2 separate regions of the Homo sapiens genome follow, and region 2 is reported to be linked to region 1. Evidence: microRNA targets listed by miRTarBase, many of them from high-throughput screens and not tested one by one. Region 1 holds a microRNA gene; the other region holds the end of a gene's coding sequence.

Region 1 (3,000 bases):
GCTATTACATGTCAACTCTAACCCTATTTTTATTCCAGTACTCTCTGGGAAACTGTGGTGAAGATATTTTGGCCAGGCAGAATCACTTTATTGGCAATTTTTTTTAATGTGTAAATTTACTCCTATATCCCTGGGTCCGTGTAATTAGCAGCATTGATGCACATTATTGTGAGGGCCCTGGACAGTTTGAGCAAAGTTTGAACTTGAAGTGAGGGCGGAAGTAAGTTCCAGAGGCCCTGCCTCTGCCCTCTGTTTTGTTCACCTCAGGGCAGCCTCTGCAAGTGGAAAACAGGCAGCAACGAAGGCTGGGAGATAGTCCCGCCATTGGTCCGCGCTGCAGCTTGTTCTGGCAGCGAGTTTAGTTCAGGAAATTTGCTGAGAATTTGTTTTCACAGCAAGCCTCATATTTTTGTTGCAAATTGTGTGGCGTAAGCTTACCAAATGTTTCCTCTGACAGGACAAGAAAAGACCTGCAGCACCTTGTAGTGAGAGGCTTTGAGGGCCTGGCAAGTCTGAAATGTGCTGTGTTCTGGGTTATGTGTGTGTCCACCCTGGGATTGGGGTCATGGAAAGCGCCTAAGGGAGGCCTCAGTGTCCACCTGGACACTGGAAACATGGACTTCTGGAAAAGCTCCAGAGCAGGGGCTTTTTTCTGTTACCTTTTTTGGTCAGAAAAGATACTCTTTTTTTCTCCAGTAGTTTTGTTAACGTGAAAATTTAGGCTGGTAAAGCAAAACAATATTATAAGAATATCTAAAATTTAACATGCACGTAAAATTAGATTTCATGGAACATTAGCCCTAGAGACTTTAGACAAATGGTTCCGTACTGGGGGGATGGTTTTGCCCCCCAGGGGACATGTGGCAATGTCTGGAGACATTTTTAGTTGTCACAACTGGTGGTGCGGGCAGCGGTGCTACTGGCATTAGTGGGTAGAGGCCAGGATGCTTTGAAACAGCCTTCAGTGATGCACAGGCCAGCCCACGACGAAAAATTATCTGGCCCAAAGTGTTGGTAGTGCCAAGGCCAAGAAACCCTGCTTTGGTTCCTGGGTGTAGGGACGTGTATGTTCTTAAACAAGAGCCCCTCCCGCCTGCATTGTGGTGGATGATGGCTGCCTTTTCATTGAGTGCGGGCTGTGTGCCAAGCGAGTTACCTCCATGCTTTTCTTTAATCCTTACAACTTTTGAGGTACGTGTGGTTTTTTTTTTCTTACTTTTTCACCTCTCCCCAAGTTGTCTGCAGATGTGTGTTTTTATCTTCATTTTACAGATGAGGAACCCGAAGCGTAGAGGGTTAAGTAATTTGCTTGAGGGGACCCAGAGTGGGAGATGATGGGCTCGGATTCAGGCCCAAGGCCATCCCCCTCCCAGTGCCTGCTCAACTCCACAGCATGTGCTGAGTCCACACACCAGGATTCAAATCCCTGCTCCACTTCCCAGCTGTGCAACCTGAGCAAGTTACTTCACTGCCTCCTGCCTCAGTTTCCACACCTGAAAACTGGGGACAGGAAGGGCTGTGTGGAGCAGGCCAAATTTTGCGATGAAGCATCTGGGTCTGTGGGTTGCACAGCGGACAGCGCAGGGCCATTTCTTTGCCCTCATACGGAGCAGGGCAACGAGCAGCACATCCCGCTTTGATGCCGAGGGTGAGGAGAGGGCAGGAGACCACTGACAGCGTGCTGGGCACAGAGTCTGGCACACAGTGCTCAGTCCCCGCAAGCGGTCACTTCTGTTACCTGTTTGATCTGCTCTTCAGGAGCTGGGTCTCCACCTTTTTCAGGAACACACTGTGTGAAAAGCAAGCCATGCTTGTGTCGGGAAAGCCCAGTGGGTCCAATCTATGTCATCAAGTTTTAGACTTCAGTCCCTCTCTCTTTTTGTCTTCCCCTTTTGCAGACACCTTGGAAGAGCTTAAGGAAATAGATAAAGGCATGTGGAAGAAACTGCAGGAGAAGTTTGCCCCCAAGGGTCCTGAGGAGGATCATAAGGCCTGAGCTCAGGCCTTACCTCGTGCACATACCTAGGTGTGGAGTCTTGTACATTGCCATCGTCAATAAAACTGCCCCAGTTTCCCCTTGACCTTACGGTTTGGGAATCTCCTCTAGCTTTCCCAGAAAGGAAGCCCTTGCTGCTCTAAAGAAAGTTTCAGCCTGAGAAGGGATGGTGATTGAGCTATCTGCTGTGACTGCTGCTCAGGGTAGGGAAATCTCCTGGGGAGAGGAAATGCAGGTTTCCCTCTGGGCCTGATGAGGGTAATGGGGCCTCGGCACAAGGTGCTTCCTGCATTGCCACGGGAGCCCCCGCCCCTCTGGCACGGGTCTGGTGTCTCCTGGCAAGATACTCAGGCTCCCTTTTGTTGTAGGAGCTCCTGGGAGGAAGCCAAAAATAGCAGTAAATACTGAAAAGGGCATCCTGTTGCAAACAGAAAGCAGTAGGGAGGTGTGAGGCCGAGAGAGGCAAAAAGCCTGCTTGGCCCTCATCCCCACTGACTCAGAGAAGGATGGACCTTAGGCCTCTATCCCTGACCTTGCAAAAACCCACATTGCCCAGTTGGCTTAAGGGACAGGGAAGCTATAGACAGGCCTTGGCCAAGCGGGGCCTCAGCTGCAGTTGGCTTCAGCACTGTGGGCAGGTTCTGTAGGTGGCCACAAGTCAGAGGCCCTGCTGGCTGAGGACACACACAGGGTCACCTCATTATTCCATGGAACCTTGGCTCTTACTGATATTGAGCATCCTTCTCTCTGGAACCGTGAGGGACAGGGCTGGGCCCACAGCGGCCCTGGTGGGTACAAAGTGGAAGTGGGTTCTTAACCTCGTCTGTGTCTAGACTCCTCAGGATGTTCTGAAATGCATAAAATAAAATCGACAGGACTGCCGTAGAAACCAGTTATGCCGAAATGCAGTTCTGGGTAGGCAAATCTCAGGGGAGGACCCTTGAGACAGGATGTCACTCAGCGTATCTCCTGAGAGCCTGAGAGGCCAGGCCAGCAGGGAGGGG
Region 2 (3,418 bases), not on the chromosome of region 1:
CAACGCTTCTCAGAAAAGGCACAAGCACCCCAGACATTCAGGCCCGGAGAACAGGCTGGCTCAGCAGGTCTTCACGATCGGGTGTCTCGAGCCCTTCTTCGGGAACGAGGGCCACAGCTGGAGCTGGGCATGGAACCCAGGCCAGGGGGTGCTCCTGGGGGTTGGTAACCACACTCATTGGGGTCCAGGGGGTCCCGGCTGAGCAGCACCCACACTGCAGGCACATGGCGGCGCACTGTGAGGGGGTCTAGCCCTGTGTCAGGTGAGGCTGGGACCCAGCTGTCCTCAGTCTGAAGGAAACGTAGCTTGGTGAGCTGGTGCAGGCCTGGGACCCGCCGCTTGACAATCTCAGCGCAGCTGACAGCCTTTCCTGCAGCCCTGCCAGAACCTGAGAACACTACATGCCGAGCACTGCCGCCCTCCAACCGACCCAGAGCCAACCCCAGCAGGTTGCGAATTTTGCTGCCATCTCGGACCCGCATCTCAAGGGTATCAGGAGGTAGCTGGGGCATTGGGGAAGGCGCTGGGAGCTCTACAGAGCCAGCTTTCCGGTAGTGCTCCATCCTGCTTGCTGTCTTGTCTGTGACTCTCGCTGCCCACTGCAGGGAAGCATCAGGTAAGTGCTAAGCAATGTGCCCCAAGTCACTGTCCACCATCCCCTATCTCCATCCAGGATATGGCCCTGCTCCCCGTTCCAGACTTCCCAGAAACAGGATCATGTCCCCTTGTCCTTAGCATCTCGTGACAAGGTCCATGCCTGCCGCAGTCTGGGAAAGGGCTGTACCCCATACACCCCGTTCCTCTACAAGGGCCATAACACCCCCACCTCCAATCCTGGAGTCCAAGAGGCAGGATCACATTCCCCAAACACTGAGCTCTTTGGGAAAGTGCCAGGCCCCCTCATCCTAAACTCTCCAGGACTGGGGCTTAGCCCCCCTTATCCTGGGCTCCTTGGAACAGGGCCTGGAACCCTCACCCCAGACTAATACCAATAGAGAGCGCTCCTCACTTGGGGCTCTACAAGGACAGGGACAAGGCCCTTCGCCCCAGGCCCCCCGGGAAACAGCCAAGAACCCTTATCCAGTGCTGCCCCCAAACAGAACGGATCCCCTCTCCCAGAGATTACCAAGGTCAATCTATATCAACCCAGGTCACTCAGAAACTCGGGGGCAGAGGCTCGACTCGGAGGGCTGCTCAGGACATTCCAAGACAGCCTTGGCCGTTTCCATAGCCACGGTCTCTTCCAGGGTCTTGCCGGCCGCTGCAGCCAAGCCACAGGCGTCCCCCAACCCTACGAGCGCCCCTCTGCCCGCCCGGTTCCGGCTCTCACCGAAGCCGCCTCACGCACGATCCGGAGCCAAGATGGCGCGCGGGCCCGGAGCGCACTAAGGCCGCGGGGCCGCGCACGCCCCGAGGGGGCGGGGCGTGAGGGGCGGGGCGTGAGGGACGGGCCCCGAGGCATCTCCGCCGCGGAAACAACCCGCTGGCCAGAGCGCCCCGGACCAGTCCCAGCGGGGATGGGAACACGAGCGCAGCCTCCGCTGTTACGCCCCGGAGGGAGGCAGGACAGTTCCCTGCGGTAGAAAGGAGCGGCCGTCGGGGAAGTCCTGCGTCTGAAGGAGGGGGATCTGGCCCTTAGAAGATGGGAGGGCTGGCGTTAGCTGTTGAGCAAACGGGGAGCTGTGGGTTTCACCGTGGGTGCGAACAAAGGCTTCAGTTTGTAGTGGCTGCTGTTGCATGGGCGAGAGCCTTAGTTACCGACTTCTGAGCTTCGACCTCATCCTGTGGGCGCTGGCGGACCACGGGGGTTTTCCGGGTTTTCCAGGGGCCAGTCGAACCAGATCTTGTGCAGGGAGCCGAGGAGGGAGTGGTGGGGAAATCGGGCCACAGCCCCTGACGACACCTGCCGCGGAGTCTGGGGGCTGAGGGGGCGGGGGTGCCCACGGAGCCTAGTATGGTGCCTGGCGTATGACCGGCGCTCAATATTTGTTAAATGATTTGTTACATTAATGAACCAGAGAAATCGCGGTGGGAATGGAAAAAAGATTAAGTTGGGAGATACTAGTAGGTTCAGTGACGAGTTGGCCACTGTTTGGACGGAGAAGTAGGAAATTCCGATCTAGGGTGACTCCCAGGTTTCAGATCGGTTTGGACACGCTGAATTTGAGGTGCCGGAGAGGTCGCAAAGGCGGGGCGGCCAATGGGCCGTTGGAAAAAGGGTCTGGAGCCAGAGCACTCCCTGAGACCACAAGGGGGCAGCAAACATTTGGTGGACTACGGTGCCAATCTGTTTCTCAACATGCTTGCCCCAGCGCCCCTACTTCCCAACTTCCCCTCCCCAGGACCAAAACTTCCTGCATCCAAACCTCTTAGGCTGCCCTTCTCGGCTCGTGGCAGCAGGTAGGCTCCCAAGAGAGAAATTTAAAGGCCTTTGCACATGCTGCTCCCTTGGCTCTGAAAGTCCCTGGATATCACTTACCAGGTCCCTTCAGTCCCTTTTTTCTTCTGTGTCCACCTGATAGGACTGCCCTTTTCCTTTACTGTCTATCCTGCTAGCCCGTGCAGGGCAGGGATTAGCCCTATCTACTCCCATCATCTGACATTTGGAGGTCTCTTATTGGTAAATGTGGGATAAATGGATACATAAAGGAATATCCTATTCACATAATCAAATGAGAGCCTTCATTTTGAGAGCTCTACACCTGCCAGAAAGCCAGACCAGGATGAGTTTAGTTCCCAGTCAAACGATTAGGCAGGCTGACACCTCTGCCCCCTACCACCTCCATCCTAGACCAAGAAGCCAGCACACTCCTCCAGTCATCTCTATGGTTTATTGTCACTGAAATAAGAACACTGATTGGGGGGAGGGTGGGTGTTGCAAATTGCAAACCTCAGGTAACCTGACCTCCAACTTTAGAGCCCAGAGTACAGAGAGGTGGGCCTTGAAGCCAATAAATACAAAGCTTCCTCTGCCTTGTAACAAAGGCAGGTTGGCATAGGGCCCTGGAGCCTGACTGCCCAGGCCCACTTTGGGATGGGGAGCAGCTATCACTCCTCTGCTGGCTTCACTTGCGTGGCGGCCTCTAGCTGGCAAAGTAGCTCATCCCACTGCACGAATTGCTTGGAGAGAAGCATTGTCTGGTTGTAGGTCAAGGTGAGAATAGGAATCTGAGTGAGGAAGTTCATGGAAAGTGGGGAACAGGCAAACATAGGTGGGTAGGATAGGATGAGAGAGAGCTAGAGGTGGAACAAAAGGACAGGGCTTAGGGACAGCACCCATTAGGGTCCTAGTTGAGCAGAAAGGATACAGTCTTGTTGTATTCCTCCAGGAGAGCCTTGGACTCCTCAGTGATTTCCACACACTGGTCCTGTAGGGCCAAAGTGTAGCACAGAAAGGAACTGGGCAAAGCCCACATCT

What was found. The annotated mature microRNA hsa-miR-3934-5p reads UCAGGUGUGGAAACUGAGGCAG and lies in region 1 at 1,476-1,497, opposite strand. An mRNA with a match to its seed (bases 2 to 7 or 8) in the 3' UTR can be bound and repressed. Matches are read on the target gene's strand: a 7mer-m8 pairs with bases 2 to 8, a 7mer-A1 pairs with bases 2 to 7 and ends in A, and an 8mer does both.
Region 2: the mRNA of DCTN3 is a reported target of hsa-miR-3934-5p. The part of its 3' UTR that is shown has no 7-base or 8-base seed match.

The regions. Positions count from the first base shown.
Region 1 is chr6:33,696,649-33,699,648 of GRCh38, reverse strand. MIR3934 (microRNA 3934) reads right to left here and starts at 1,521; the gene lies at 1,415-1,521. It overlaps UQCC2 (ubiquinol-cytochrome c reductase complex assembly factor 2), which reads left to right. Exons shown (of 4, transcript NM_032340.4): 4 at 1,899-2,885. The coding sequence ends at 1,996. RefSeq lists an enhancer at 1,118-2,093.
Region 2 is chr9:34,610,734-34,614,151 of GRCh38, forward strand. DCTN3 (dynactin subunit 3) reads right to left here. Exons shown (of 7, transcript NM_007234.5): 6 at 3,309-3,368; 7 at 2,813-3,138. The coding sequence ends at 3,049. RPP25L (ribonuclease P/MRP subunit p25 like) reads right to left here and starts at 1,364. Exons shown (of 2, transcript NM_148178.3): 1 at 1,331-1,364; 2 at 1-599. The coding sequence starts at 563. The coding sequence ends at 72. RefSeq lists enhancers at 282-835, 1,939-1,988, 2,116-2,165 and a silencer at 1,299-1,538.